2 separate regions of the Homo sapiens genome follow, and region 1 is linked to region 2. A link means that fine-mapping ties the variant in region 2 to the expression of a gene that starts in the linked region. Tissue or cell type: unexposed skin. Region 2 holds a variant in brackets; the other region holds the start of a gene. All regions are shown on one strand. Distances are between the middles of the regions.

Region 1 (8,184 bases), 66 kb before region 2:
TAGATTCCCAATGGAAATGTCTGGAGAAGTGCCAGACACCACCAGTCCATTAGTGAGTGTCCAACTCTCTGAAGTTTCAGACAGTCATGGAGACATGATGTTAAAAAAAAAAAAAAAAAGACTGAAAAGGACCTTAGAAACAACTGAGTTCAACTATACAATTGAAAAAACTGAGCCAAAGACAAGAAATGTGACTTGCTTAATAGAAGGCAGTTAATAAGGGTTAAGATGCAAACATACGCTTGAAAAATCTCAAAACCCAAATTCTCTTCTCCCTATCAGTCTTCTCAGAGACACAAATGAATCAATAATGACAAGAGCAGGATGGTAGCTGAGGGCCTCTAGTCACTGATGTAGGGTTGTGCACATCGTAATTCTGTGTGCTATTTTCTTTCCTAGCATTTTTACCTAATACGAAGAACTTCATTTGAGATAGGTAGAGTGTGGTAGGCAAAAAGAATATCTGAGCTTTTTCTGCCTCCTTCTTTGTGTTGCCCACTTTAGTCCTCTAACAAGCCCTGAGCTTCTCCTCTCTTTGCACTTTTGCCACTCTGTCCCCTTATCTGAAAGGCCCCTGCTGCCATTTCTACAATTTGAAATGCTTTACATCGTTTCAAGGCTTTGCTCAAATGCCTTTTCTTTCATGAGACCTGCTTCGATGGCCCTGATAGGAAGTAATCATCGCATATTTTCTTCCCCAATGATACTTCGTTTATTTCTTGCTCAAAATATGAATTTATTTATGCTTTTTATTATAGTTTCATGTGTATCTTTGTTTTCCCCTCATTAAATGTGCACTCCTGAGAGGCAGGAGCAATTTTTGCTTTATCTTTGTCTCTTCTAGTAGGAGTAGCATCATTCCTTTTATATGATATAATTGTATATATTTTTATACTGAATTGAACCACAAAACTCTTCTTCTAAATCCCGTGCCAACATCATCCAAATATACTAAAAAAAAAAAAAAAAACTGGAAAAGTATAATACTCCTTCTTATTTAAATTGTCTATTGGTATTCCTTTTTTTTCTTAAAAAATCAAAACAAAACAAAACACTTGTTTCGTTGACTTTTGTCCAACAATGGATTAAAGTGAGCTGCTGTGGTGGTTCACTCCTATAATCCCAGTACTTTAGGAGGCCGAGGCAAGAGGATCACTTGAGGCCTGGAGTTGGAGACCAGCCTAGAGAACAGAGAAAGTCCTTGTTCTTACAAAAAATTTTTAAAATTAGCCAGTTGTGGGGACATGCACCTGTAGGCCTAGCTACTAGGGAGGCTGAGGTGGGAGGATGACTTGAGCCTAGAAGTTTGAATCTGCAGTGAGATATGATCACACCAGTACACTCTATCCTGGGTGACAGCGTGAGACCAAATCTATAAAAAAATAAAAATAAAAACATAAAGTGAGTTGTTATATGGACCAAAGGTGATATATAAATGAGGATGGCGGCAAGAAAAGAGAAGAGCAATTGAGCTAGCATCAGAACCTTCAAATTTGTGGAAAATATAAGTTTCTATCCTGGCCTGTTGAAGTAGCAATTATTATAAGAGATTATTGTCTCTTTAAAAATATTGACAACTAAAGAGATTGTTGAAAGAGAAGGGAGCCGGATTTGTTACAGGGTTCTTCTTCTTCTTCTTCTTTTTTAAGATGGAGTCTCGCTCTGTCGCCAGGCTGGAGTGCAGTGGCACAATCTCGGCTCAGTGCAACCTCCTCCTCCCTAGTTCAAGCGATTCTCCTGCCTCAGCCTCCTTAGTAGCTGGGACTACAGGCCCCTGCCACCACACCCAGCTAATTTTTGTATTTTTGTTAGAGATGGGGTTTCACTATGTCGGCCAGGATGGTCTCAATCTCTTGACCTGTGATCTGCCCGCCTCGGCCTTCCAAAGTATTGGGATTACAGGCATAAGCCACCATGCCCAGCCTCTTCCTTTAAATGTGAAGGCTTCTTGGGAATATTATAGCAATACATTTTAAGTATGGGAAATAAGAAGGAAGCTAAGAAATATTAACTATTTTTCAAGGTTAGCAAGGGTTTACTTGAGGTGTGTAACCTGGACTGCTCATTCCATTCGTTTTAACTAGAAGTATTCTTTCATGGGACAGATGGCAAATTGGTTGGTTATACTAAAATGAAAGAAGACACTTTAAATTCCAGGACTCTCAATCTCTCTCTCAGCAAGGTTTGACCCTTTCTAAAACTATTTCTTATCAAATGAAGTTAGCAATTATGTCAGCTTAAGCAGAAAGACTTTTAAATTGTTTTAGAAAATATTTTAACAATGCCCCTAGATGGGATTTTACATTTTTTTGTATTTTAAAAAACATAATTATAATTATGCTCAAGTTAAACATATTTCTGTATTCATCACCTACCACTGGCCATCTAGATAATGGCAAACTAATGACAGCAGAACGTTTTATCTGCACTTTTCCCTGAGCACTGTTCAAAGGGCATTTATTTCATTCTTTGCATATATTCATGGCCAGATAAAATGCATCACTGGGCTCACTTATAGCAGACATCCTTTACAGTAGTTCAATTCTATCACAATTTTTGGAAATGTAATTTTCTAGCATTAAAGAGGTATTCCTAACTCCATTGGTTTTGAAATGCCATGTTCAAGTCAGAGGCAAATTAAAAGCAAGAAAAAGCGAGCAGCAAAAATAATGCACAGCAAAATAGAATCATTATTACTTTCCATTTGGAACTCCAATTTGAGAGTTTAATAAAGAAAATTAGAAGAAAAATATATAAACTCAGTCGAGTATCTTTCTTAAACTTTATAGAGGTGACATTATAGCATTTGCTAGGGTAAATTGTTCCCTTCAGGATGCACATTAAAAAGCAAATTGTTTTGCTATATACTCCTTTTTTTGAGCTCTTGAAATATTGTTTCTTTTTCTTACCTGTGTTTTCCTAAGCCTCATTAATGAACAGCAGCTAATTCTGAAGATTTGATTTTTTACTCAGTTCTGCCTCTCTCAGATTCCTATGGCCACAGGTAATGGTTTTGAACTTCAAAATTACTTCTTTCTGAGCTTCTCCAGCGAGAAAAATAAAATCCTCAAATGTGAACCCACTCACTCATCTTTTGAATAGTAGTCAGTTCCCTAGAGCAACTCATTTTAAGGGAGGATTTAAATCCATGCCTGTCCCCCGTACATTGGGATGCACTGGAAAGACATTTTCTCCCTCAACATTTTTTCTTTTACTTGGAAATCATTAAGATAATGTTTTTTCCTCTTGCATGTTAATTGGGTAGGTTTTGCATGCCTTGCATTTTCTTTCTCAACGTTTTAGATTATTAACACTCCTTAAAAAAAGTCTATCACACTATTCTTAATGCTGTCATCAAGAGTAAAAAATTTATCTTAGAAAAAAGGGTGGTACTGAAATGTTACTCAATATGATATATGCAGCAATGGAAGACGTGAATTTCTGGAGGTCTCAGTAGCAGAGATCACTTAATTACCCTTGTGGAAATTTATCCTTGTGAAAAAAGGAGGAACTATTTAGTAACTTCATCTGTTTAATGGGATAACAAGACCTACCTCATAAATTAACTATGAGGATTAAATGAGCTAATAATGTAAAGACTCAATAAATAGTCCATGTTGCCTATTTTTGGTATCATTAGCCTTAGTAAAGATACTGAATGTTGTACATGGCAGTTGGGACTTAGCGAAAATTTGGGCTGGCCTGGATCATGAAAAGAAGCTGCTATCTTCTTACCTCCAGAGAGTCATCAGCATTCACCATCCAACAGTCAGTCCAGGTGGCCACAATCAAAAACCCAGCAGAGAAAAAGGCAAAGAAGCAAGCGATGTATTGAAGAAGATCCCTCATTGTGGCAAGCAGCCCATCAGGATGGCAACATGGGCAGACACCAGCCCTGGCCCCACTTAAGTGGCGGGTGTCAGTCTTCTGTGTTTCTGGTACCTGGCAATGTGAAAATACTGGTCTTTTACTTTTTCTCACGCCCTGCTGCAGGTGTCTTGAGTTGCAGTAAGAATAATACAAACAGGCTGTAACCAACAGTGGGGTCCTGGAGGTCATTATCCGAAGCAACCAGCCTCCAATCAGAAGGCAGGTCAGTGCAAGGGCTGAGTGTGTTTCGGGTGGGGGAGAGAGGAGTTCTGTAACGTTTTCTGACCCAACTGTGGGCTAGTGGTGGTCACCAGACCAAGTGCCAGTGCCAAGACGGGGGAAGGAGGAAGGGTCCCACCCCATGCTGGAACCTGTAAACTGATCTTTCTTAGGCCCTCTAGGGAGAGTGAGCTATTCTCCTCCCCACTCGGAAGAAGGCTACACGGTTGACTGAGTGTTATTTTATTGTTAGGACTATTTTAATATTCGCCGACTACTTTAGACAGACAGGCCACTGGTGAAACTATGCTAAACAAGTGCTCGCTCAAGGGAGTCTGCATTCCAAAGTGTTGCGTAGAACAGCCCCATGAAGGACTTGTAGCACCTGGGCAGTAGGGACAGCCAAGGCTCCTAACCTTTCAGCATCGTAGAGTGGGAACAAGTGTGCATTTTAATGCAGACAGCTCTGGGTGGAAATTCTTGCTCTGAATTTATGGTCTGAGAGCCCTTGGGCTGTAGTTTCTGAAAATGCATGTATTAATATTTTCTTTATATAATGCTTGTTCTTCATATGAGGAATAAAAGATATTGTGCCTGTAAGTCGCTTAGAATAGCATCTGTCAGTAATAGCTAAATGGAAAATATTAACATGACTAAGAATTTCCTATATTATTACTTTTCCCTCATGGACCAATGTTTGAAAACGCGTCTAATGAAGAAAAAAAAACTGTTATATTAGGAAGAAAGTGTGTTTCTTTTTTGTAAAAAAAAGTTTTTAATATGTAACTGGGGCAACTGGAATTTTATCTGTATCTGAATAGGTATCCTTAATGGGTCTACAAATTCCATAACCAATACTCTTTAATATGCTTTAAAAAGCACATATATCAACATTTTCTCTTCATCAGGTAGACTTCTATATACTAAAATAAAAATTTTGAATGAGAACAGTAAAAACAAAGTGGTGATTCTTAATGTAGGAGAGAATGTCAAAGGGGAGACAGAGTGAGAGAAAGAAATTGGGAGGGAGAGAAAGAAAGGAGCAGAGAAAAGGCCAGAAAGAGGTAATTACTCTGGCATGAATCAGCTACTAAGATTCTTATTTTACCAACAGCTTATAAAAGGATTACTTTTTTCCATTTGAAAATTATTTGATCATAATATACAGTATAAAAGGCTAAAATCAGTATTGATAAACCATTTTTCAAAATATATTACAATAATAAACTTTTTGTGGCTAAACTTTGTTTTTTCTAATTTTAATTCATTTTATTCAAGTATATAAAACGTAAATTTAAATGTAAAAGCTGCATGGAAAACCATAGGTGGAATATAAGCTTAATTATTTCTATACATAGGGTCTACAGTACCACCCCTGCTATCCAGAATTTCCCTTTTGAGGCTTCAGTTACCAGTGGTTAATCATGGTCTGCAAAAATTACATGGGAAATTTCATAGATAAACAATTCATCAGTGGTAAATTGAACACTGTTCTGAATAGCGTGATGAAATCTCAAGCCATCCCACTTCACATGGGATATGAATCATCCCTTTGGCCAGCATTTCCACATTGTATGCACTACCCACCCCTTAGTCACTTAATAGCTGCCTCGGTGATCTGACCTACTGTTGCGTATAGTGTGTGTAGGATCCAGTACTGTCCTTCGTTTCTGACATCCACTGAGGGTCTTTGAACATATTCCTCAAGGAGAAGGGGTGATTACTGTACACATTAGCGATCGTTATAACTATCTGCGAGGTACATTACAGATGCTTTTATTTTACTTATTTTGTTTAACAGTTGGAAAAAAAATACCTGTTTTTTAAGTGCTCATTCAAAGAATGTCATTGCCCACGGAATACAAACATGCTGCTTTGGTGAGTCACAGAGAATCTTTCCCTGTGCCCTAAAATCTGAAATGCTATTAAGATTTACTCTGCTGATCTGGGAGAGCAAACCAATTCCAAAAGCACATGCCCTTTGCAGGAAAAGTCCTGGACTTGTTGCTGACATTTCACACAGGGACTTTTCACAGTGTACTTTACCTGCTAACAGTGCACTCCAAGGCAGTAGTTCTTCAACCTGAGTGTACACTGGACTCTGTAAGGCCACTTGTTATAAATGCAAACCCAGGAATTCCACTCCCAGACATTTGGATTCAGGAAATTGGGAGTGGAAGCCAGGAATTCATATTTTACATGTGTTTTGTATAAAATTCTGATTTTGAAACAGATGGCCATACTTTGAGAGATGAGTTTAGAACAACAAAAGAAAAACAATTTTTTAAGAGTTATATACTACAAATCACAGACAAAGTTTTAGAAAAGAGGGTATCAGAATTCCATCTTTGCTACAAACTCTTCCCTAACTAGCACCAATAGGTCCCAAATCCAAATATCAGAACTTAATGGAAAGAAATAAAGACCAAAAAATGCTAAGCATATGCATTCTCATATGCAAACACACACATGTGCATACATATCTCTGGAAATCATAGATTCTTTCACAAAAAAAAAAATCTAGACTATAGCATTCATTCGCTCCTAATGGTCACTGAACATTGTATGTGATAGGGAGTGGGGAATTATTCAGGTGGCTATAGAATTGTTCCTGAATTTAAGTTTACTACTCTTAGAGAATAACATAAAACATTCAGGCTTGCATGTGAATTTCTGTGAGTGAGGCCATAATGTAATAGGAGATACAAAAAGGAGAGTCATGCAAACTGATAGAGCAGTAAACACTTCATGGATGGGATGTGAGTGCACTTCTAAGAAATGTGTAGGGTGTTGTGAGGATGGAGGGCACAGATGCAGAATAAACTGCTCACCAATCTATATAGACACATCTCTTTTGCATTCTGACCCTCCCTAGGCTTCAACATTTTGGTTTATCAACTCTTTTATAGTTTAATTCCATTCCATCCAGCACACATTTATGAACAGTGTACTCTGACTCTAGTACTTTCTCTTGGGACACAGAGAAAATAAACGGTTGGAAGAACTCATCCTAGTCCTTGAGAGGTTTACTCTTCAGTGAGTGGACCAGAAGCAGGAAGTAAAGAACTCCATTCAGGTAATTCTGACAACAGTCTTAAGCTATAATACCACTCCCAATAAGAGTATATAGGCATATTAGTTAGAAATATGATGTGTTTTCCAATTTATTATAAACATGAAGAAAAGTTATTACTGTGTGTTGCTCAATAAGGTTTACAAAATATTTTCAGATATATTATCTCATCTAAGCTCTGTGAAGACAGACATCTTTCGTTCACCAGTGCATCCCACATGCTTAAAATTCTACCTGGCATATGGTAGGCTCTCAGCAAATGTGTAATAATTTAATTCTCAGAGCCCCCACATTTTACAGAAGAGGGAGTAATATTGGACTTTCCCCTTCTGAAACATTCAGGGTCCTCCAGGATGGATACTAGGCTGGCAAAAGTGTCCTAATCATCTTTGCAGCTCCAGGGCTATTGATTTTGCAAGATCTCTAAGACCAACAGTTTGGTCAATTCATTATGCACCATGTTCCTACTCACCCAGTGCTTGCACTACTCCTGGATGAGGCTTTAGAGCCACCTGGCGATCAGTTGAGTGACACCCTTAATCTAGCACCGTGGCTGTTGGTCTATTAAAGGAAGTAATTGTAGAACTGGAAGTATTGCAGTTGTCCTTTTGGTCTGCAGGTGGAAGCAGCCTTGCATTTTCAGTTAAACAGAACAGCAAGCTCTTGTGTCAAGAACAGCATATTTTTGTGTTAGTTCTGTTGTTTCCATTAATGTCACAAAATGTTCCCTCTATATTTATTAGGATAATAAGAGTTATTAGAAGGAGTAAACTGACTTATACCATATCCTATAAATAGTCTTCTAACTCCCTTTGAAATTTCCAGTGCATATTGGAAAAATCTAAACAATAAAATCAGTTGCTGTTCTGAAAGGCCATGCTAGCTATAACTAATATAAAAAAAGCGGTGGTTAAAAGCTTGGACCTCATAGTCAGGCTGACTCGAGTTTAGGCTAAGCCCATTTATATATGACAGATCTTGAGCAAGCTAGTTAACATTTCTGAGGCTGCCTTCTTGTCAAT
Region 2 (8,184 bases):
TAATTACACAGCAGATTGCTTACTTAGTAATGTGTTCATTCGTTCTGCTTTTACCACTTAAGAAGCTCTGAAAAGTCAACATTAACATATATTAACACTAAGCAAAAAAATTAACATCCCAATGGCTTTCATACTGTCATCATTAACCATTTCTGAGAATCTGCCATGCTGCCTCTTAGAGGCTTGGTTCTTTGTCTACACTCTCTTCTGACACTCACAGTCTTACCTTTGCTTCTGTCTTTTATGTGTATATCTCTTCTACTTATTATTGGTTCTCAAGATCATGGCTAAGCCCAAGCATCAGTCGCACAAGCACATGGAATAAACCAGTACGCTATTTGCTGTTTTTACACATCTCTTCCTCCTCAACAGCAACAACTTTTTGCCACATGATTCTAAATCCCCAGGGTATAAAACCTCAGTGGGCTGCAACAGATATTAAGAAGAGACAGTCACAGAGTAAAATATCTTGCCACTGCCTGGAGCAAGAAACACATGATAAGTATGTCTAAGCTCTTCCAAAGAAGAAAAAAAAAATTGTCCTCGATTGATTTGGGTCACACAGAGAAATACTGCAGGAGAGCAGTCAAAGGCATGGACACGAGCGTCAAATTATATAGTTTGGAATTCCAGCGCTGCCATATTCAATATGAACTTGGATAAGCAGCCTGACCTCTCTGTGTCTGTTACCTGCACGTAGAGATAGCATATAAAACTCTGACCTCAACACTTGATGAAAATATACAGCAACAAGTGCCAGCTGTCATTACTTAGAGTCATAAAGCTTTAGACTTGGGTGACTTTCAGAAATTAACCCCATCCCTTTTATTGGTAGGGAAACTGAGGAAGAAAAGAAGTAATTTGTCTGAGGGTACATAGCAGATTTTACTACTCAACAGGCTAGGACACTTACCATACCATTGCCAGCCTTTCTAGAGCCTTCTTGGTCTCAGTGCTGCCTTTACTGTTTATGTTTCAGATATGAAAGGCCAGTATTTGGAAGCTGTTTTTCCTCTTAAGTTGATAGATTTATGCTGAGCCATTATCTCACCTGTCCTCTGCACTTAAGCTAGGAGCAGAAAACTAGACAGGATTAAGGATGCCTAGAGATGGGCCTGAATCACAGTGAAGCAAACAGCATTCACCTCAGCCTCACAAACATGGTTGTGGGTAGTGAAGTAATCAGCCTCGCACAGACCTGAAATACAAAACAAAAACACGGGACCCTGCTGACCACAGAACTCATCCCTCCGATTCCCCGCTAATTGTAGGTTGATAGAAACCAGTTGTAATGCAGAGTAAAAGGGCCTGTGCACAAATATATTTACTGAACGCAGAAAATGTCATTTATTTGTTTATTTATTTATTTATTTATTTGTTGAGATGGGGTCTTGGTCTGTTGCCCAGGCTGGAGTGCAGTGGCACGATCTGGGCTCACTGCCACCTCCGCCTCCCGGGTTCAAGCAATTCTCCTACCTCAGCCTCCCAAGTAGCTGGAATTACAGGCGCCCACCACCATGCCCGGCTAATTTTCATATTGTTAGTAGAGACGGGGTTTCACCATGTTGGCCAGGCTGATCTCGAACTCCTGATCTCAAGTGATCCGCCTGCCTCAGCCTCCCAAAGTGTTGGGATTACAGGCGTGAGCCACTGCGCCTGGCCTGAGCCACCGTGCCCGGGTGTTTAATAATACTTTTAATTCTTAAATGTTTGGAACAAAAAAAAGAAGAAAATGAGATTATATGATTCACATGGTACTGCTCTAGTCCTGCAGCAAATTCCAGTGCCTTCTCTGATCAGGGAATTTTTACAAAATCAAATGTGATTGATACATCTTCATCCACACTGACAGGCACCCACAGAACATCCACTGAGACCTAGACAGTAGTACTGACTGCAGGCCCTAACCCTGGGATACAACACGAACATGGTCTTGTCCTAAACAGCTGATAGGAGAAAGACAGTATTCACTGTGTTAATCTCAGTCCAAATTAATTGTCTTCATCTAGCTCCTGTCTTACATTCTTCATTGCTTGTCCCTAAATCCTAGCACGGCCAAGTCCTTTAGTTTTAAGCCTACATGAAAGGCATCCAGGGAGAGCCAGGTGGAAATGAAGGTGGTGGGGCTTGGCCTTTCTTCCCATTCCCACCTTGAGAATTTGCACCTTTCCTTCTCTGTCACCAACTAGCAGTTGCCATGGTATATAAGGGTATATCTTATTTTATCCTTAATATGTTTATTTCTGCTTCCAAGATGCTTCTGTTTTTACTAAAACCATAGAAGCTTCCCCTCCCACCACACTCGCACCACACACAAAAAGCAGTTGGAAAAACATTTCAATGATTCCTAACCACAACAGCACTTCTGACTAACTACAAAGAAGGAAGCTTTGGAGAAACATAGAGGGAAACTACAGTCCCAGCGAGACCGAAACCGGAGGGGTGAGATAGCCAGTCACAGTAAAAGCTGGAACCAGAGCCCAGACTTCCTCAACTCCAGCCCAGTCCTTTTGCCACTGGGGAAACGCTGTTTACATGTCCTCACCTGCGACGAACAACATTTGATAACTCACAAAATTAACACCTTTCAGGGAGAGCGGGGCACTGGCCAGGTCCCTCTGATAATGAATTGCTGCTCTAAGACATAACTGCTGTGGGGAGGAGGTTGGTGTTTGGCGGGGAAGGGCTGCTAGCCTGCAGTTTCATAAGGACAATAATACATCAAAAAGGACAATCATAGATCAAAGGGGATATTTTGGGTCAACTTGATATGTAGTGGAAAGCAGATTGGGAGGGGAGCCAAGTACTGGATATGCTCCGTGCGTGAGTGTGTCTGTGTGTGTGTGTGTGTGTGTGTGTAAATCATGTTGCTCTCTGGGTCTGTTTCCCAATCTGTAGAGTGTAAAAGTCTCTGAGGCTCCTTGCAGAGACAAGTGATGGAACGACCTTGACAGAAGAGAGCAGAGAGAGGAAAGAAGGGGGAGGAAGCCAAGCAAAGGAGAGAGAAATGGTGTGATGGGGGAGGAGACGCGGAGTTGGGTAGAAATGCCTTTTAATAAGATATTGGGAAAAAAGTATTAAACCTAAAACTGCAGCTCTTGAAGGATCATTTTTTCATCTTTGTGTTAGGATTTACAAGTACAGTGCATAGTAATTTTTGGATAATTGGAGTGAATGAATGAAAAGCGTGAAACGCCTTACAGGAGCGAGAAGATCCACGAGAGAAAGCGAGCA[G/A]GGACGCAGCTCTGGTGCCTGGTCCTGCCGGGTGGTCCCCACGCCGCCAGCCGCGCGTTCCCCAACCGGGCGCTCCCGGCGCCCTCTCGGTGAGCCGCCCTGAAACCGCCAGGGGGCGCTCCCCGGCTGCCGGGGCTGAGGCGGGCGGAGCTGCTTTAAATCGCGGCGCCCAGCGGTTCTGCGTCTCAGTTCCCGAGCCTGGGAGCAACCGCAGCTTCTAGTATCCAGACTCCAGCGCCGCCCCGGGCGCGGACCCCAACCCCGACCCAGAGCTTCTCCAGCGGCGGCGCAGCGAGCAGGGCTCCCCGCCTTAACTTCCTCCGCGGGGCCCAGCCACCTTCGGGAGTCCGGGTTGCCCACCTGCAAACTCTCCGCCTTCTGCACCTGCCACCCCTGAGCCAGCGCGGGCGCCCGAGCGAGTCATGGCCAACGCGGGGCTGCAGCTGTTGGGCTTCATTCTCGCCTTCCTGGGATGGATCGGCGCCATCGTCAGCACTGCCCTGCCCCAGTGGAGGATTTACTCCTATGCCGGCGACAACATCGTGACCGCCCAGGCCATGTACGAGGGGCTGTGGATGTCCTGCGTGTCGCAGAGCACCGGGCAGATCCAGTGCAAAGTCTTTGACTCCTTGCTGAATCTGAGCAGTGAGTGCACCCCCACCTCACAGCGGCCGTCCAGAGGCCCCAGTCCCCCTGCAGCTCCCTTATGGGCTCATTCTGTTGTGTGATTCCATGGTTATCAGTCTTCAGTTGATCAAGTCTTCTGATCATGTGCTCTGTCATAAGGAAATGAAGAGAATCCTGGTTTGAGGAAAGCGACGCCCAGGCATAAGCTCTAGTTTTGCCTCTAACTCCCTGGGTGACACTTCTGCCACTCTAGGTGTGGCTTCATCCTAAATTCCTATGCTGGTGGTTCGAGTTGAGGGAGTGAAGGCCAAACTTGAACTTGAGCTCTTAGACCTCTCCTAGGCATTCCGAGATTTGGGGTAAATTGAGGATTGGTAGAGTTCAGACAAGAAAATGGGATGACTGAAAAAGTTTGAAGCCTGGTAACTTCTCAAGTGTGCACGCTTAAATAAATAATCCTCAAGTATTAGATATAACTTTTTAACCTTTAATATGATTTTTTCATAGTAAAAGTTACATTCCTACTGGAAATGTCCTATCTAAGTGTCTTCTGCTTATGCTTGAGGTTGATTCTTTTAATTTATAAGATCCAGTTAGTGCAGGGAGGCCCCTTGCAAGACTCTTTGGAGAAGCTGCTTGAGATTCCCCCGAAGTTTTAATTTTCAGACCCAAGGTCTTCTGTAGAGGCTGACGGTGTAGTGCTATCTTGGAAAGAGAAGGTTGGTGGCAGGTGGGGAAAGGCTGACAAGAAAGGTTCTAAATAACCTGCGCAACATAATACAAAGAAAAAAGTAAAGGCACTGAAGGGAAATGCAGCAAAATAGTCATAGCTGATGAAATCAGAGGTCAGCTGGGAGTGGAAGGCAGTGAGAGAGAAAGAAGAGGTGGGTCTTCCTTAGGTTTCCATCTTCCACAAAGAAATTTCTGTGTAATGGATGTTCAGTGACCCCCTGTAAAACTGGAAAGGATTGTATAGAGAGACATATTTCTAAGGATGGTGGGAAGAAGGATAATAGGATAATTGTTTTACTTTGTTTTTTAAATTAAAGGTTTCGAGTTCCTTGTCCGAAAAGTCATTAAATTCCCATTTACTTAGATAATAATGATTCACGGCTGGAGTATCTTCCTTGAGAAATCACATTAATTGTCTTATATCATGTGTCTGTTATGCCCTTTAACTCACTTGAAGAAAAGATCCCTTAGTCTTTGCCTAGATGAACGTGACTGCCCACTGGCCCCCATTGCATGCTAAGGGTGAAAAGTGTTGGCATTGTTCAAGTTTACTTAACTTGTTTTGTCTACCTCCTATCAAGGGACAACTTTTAATAGTGTATATCAAAAGCCATATAGTTTAGAGTTATTAAACCTGTTCCAAATCTGTTTGAACACCTTGAATACCTGTGGCATTTGCTCAGTCAATGTGCATGGTTGTTTTGAGTGTTATTATTTCAGCTTTTGAAGGTTCTCATATCAGGACTTCTTTACACCAAAACCAATCCATAAGTTTAGTAATTATGTGTTGCTCATTGCCCTCAGGGGTTATATTTGTACTTATAAAATGAAAAATTTGGTAATAATTATTGAATTTCTCCATGGAAAGATAAATATATTTAAGGAAACGGTGTCAGGCATTTTAGGTACCACGTTAAGGAATTGGCAGGTGGAGGTTTCTAAGGACAATTCCAGAGAGGTCTCACTGTCAGTTTTATTCCTCTGATCAAAATAGTTCCTTTTCAACATCTTTAAATAGGTTTTCTTTTAACTTCCTGAAATGACCAAATGAAATCAGATTGATCTATGTTGTAAATACTCAAATGGATCATCCTTACACATGATAATGTGTTAAAATGTTTTACTTTCATTTTTTGGTTAATGTAGTTATTACAGTTTTTAAAACTAGGGTGAAAGGACTAAATACCTACCCCCCCACACACACTTTAGAGATGTCTTCCTATTTTTTTAAAACTCCAGATCAGAATCCACTTTTATTTTACTTAAAGCCATAGTTTATCCAAGGTGTGGCTTAGGCCTTTCTCTCAAAACCCATTCTCAGAAGAGGGACCCTTGACTCACAGGTGTTCTCCTCTCACCTGCCGTGACTCACGGGATGCTTTTGGATAGAACCCAGGAAACCTTACTTCATTTCTCTGCCTGAGCAGTGGTGTTTACGCCCACCAGCTGTAGAGATCTGGGATGGTGATTCATTGGCTGGTTTTGGTACAGTTTTGTTACATGTAGAGATGAAAAGGGTTATGTGTGTATATTTAAGCAGTATCACTCAGAAAAAAGCTGCATTTCATTAAGTGTGTTTAGGTGAAAAGCTTAGCTGTGGGTTTCCCGAAATTGTACCTTGCCGTCTTTCCCAGTAGAGCACACTTGTCTTCCCGGCCAGATGCAGGGCTTTAGCACGGGAAGTATTAAAATCTGTTGTTTCCCTGCTTTATGTAGGGTAGGTCATAAAAAGCATATGACCTTCATAAAGTATCTGAAGGAATACAGTGTGCTAATAGTGTATACAGTAAATACAAAATGAGATAGAGCAAGGCTTCTTCTTTTAGGTAGTTCTTGCCAAGCGGTTTATGAAAATGTAACTGAGGCACTTCCTGGGGAAACAAATGTCACATTGTGTATTGTAGTTTTATAATGGCTGATACAATTTCCATTTCATCCAAAGTATGTGATTTTATTGACCCTGGGGATTCTTGTAGCTGAAAGTTGGAATATACAAAAAGTGCCAGATACAGTTGTAGTAGACTTTTCTTGATTCACCTGTACCTCTCGCCTTGTTTTCATCTAATTCTCAAACTTTTAGGAAGCTCGCGCCAATTTTATGTGCTTGCTTAAATGCTTCTTCTTACTTGACTTTAATAGCTAGAGCTGTCCAAAGATTGAGTTGCTGTAGGAGGCTGCATGGTGGGAGGTGTGCAAGCAGAGAATAAATAAGCATTTTGAAGGAATGTTGTAGGGAAGATCCAAGCACCAGACAAATGGGAGGTTAGGCTAGACTCTCTCTCAATCTCACCGAACCCTGAGATTCTGTAATTTGTTTATAAGCTCCTCTAGCCTGTTTAACTTGCTTTGCATGAATCCACATGTGTGTAGGTGTGCTTAATGAGTATTGGTGGCTGTGAGCTTCCCCAGCACTCTCACCATGATGTCAGGCTCAATCAGAGAGACAAAATCACTGACGTGGACAGTCTTTGAAGCCTAAGTGGAGAGGAGGGCACCTATTTATGCTTCTCCAGATGCGTTGTGCCTGCTGAACCGAGGGTACTCGAAGGGCCATTGGTGTTCAGATATACTTCATAAATTAGTTCTGACTCTTAGAATAATGGAAGTTGAAGCAAAAATCCAGGCTTGAGATCAGAAATTCTCTGTTCTTACTGTGGTTTGGCACTAAGTAGCCAAGTGTATAATGGTGAGCCACTTGATCTCCCTGGTTTCAAGTAGTTACCCCACTTATAAAATAGGGCAGAGTGGGAGGAATGGGGAGATGAATCTATGATTCGTTTATCCATTCAACAGATGCAAGCTAGGCCCTATTCTTGCTGCTAAGGATGGTGCAGCTAAGATGAGTTCTAAGATTCCTTCCAGTGCCAGAATTCTTTGTTATTACTTCAGTGATTGAAGGGGAAGAGGCAAGTCACATAGCTTAGGTTTCCTTAATTGGAGTGATTAAGGAAATATAATGGAGGTAATATAGAAGCATCAACTTAATTCTGAGAAAATTTCTTGAAGAAACACACAAACAAGAAAGGTAGCAAAACTTCTGAGGACATCCTGAAAAGTGGTACATCCTGCCTCATCCAGGATCATTTTCACTCCTGATTTTGCTTATGTTCTGAGTTCACATCTGGTGACCATCACCTCATGCACCAATAAGAGGGAAATGCTAATGATTAGGACTTTTATGAAACTTTGAACTTCCGTAAAAGTAAAAGATTTAATATGGAGAAAAGCCAGGGGAGTACACTTCTGTGACTGTCTGTGTTGAGCTCATTTAATTGCAGGGGAGAAGGAAGCACAATATTTTTGTTCTAGTCACCCAATCATCAGTTCATTTATTCACTTAATACTTATTAAGCAACTACAGATGCAAAGGGAGAATTGGAATCTGCAGTCAACATTTGAACAACACAGGTTTGAACAGCAAGTGTCCACTTATAGGTGGATTTCTTTCAACCAATACCGATCAAGAATACAGTATCTGAGAGTCCAAAGCCTGCATGTAGGGAGGGTTGACTTTCTGTATACAAGGCTTCCACAGGATCAACTGTAGGACTTGAGCATGTGCAGATTTAGTTACCTGTGGGTGGTCCTGGA

What was found. PIP is the estimated chance that this variant, and not a neighbour inherited with it, causes the effect.
Region 1: CLDN16 starts here. The variant in region 2 is fine-mapped to the expression of CLDN16 in unexposed skin (GTEx, PIP 0.97).

Annotation. Positions count from the first base shown.
Region 1 is chr3:190,383,995-190,392,178 of GRCh38, reverse strand. It overlaps CLDN16 (claudin 16), which reads right to left and starts at 4,016. Exons shown (of 5, transcript NM_006580.4): 1 at 3,736-4,016. The coding sequence starts at 3,849. RefSeq lists an enhancer at 5,465-5,759 and a silencer at 7,585-7,879.
Region 2 is chr3:190,317,679-190,325,862 of GRCh38, reverse strand. CLDN1 (claudin 1) reads left to right here and starts at 3,417. Exons shown (of 4, transcript NM_021101.5): 1 at 3,417-3,879. The coding sequence starts at 3,657. It also overlaps a transcript of CLDN16 not described here. RefSeq lists a silencer at 3,267-3,426. The variant G/A (reference allele first, on the strand shown) is at 3,235.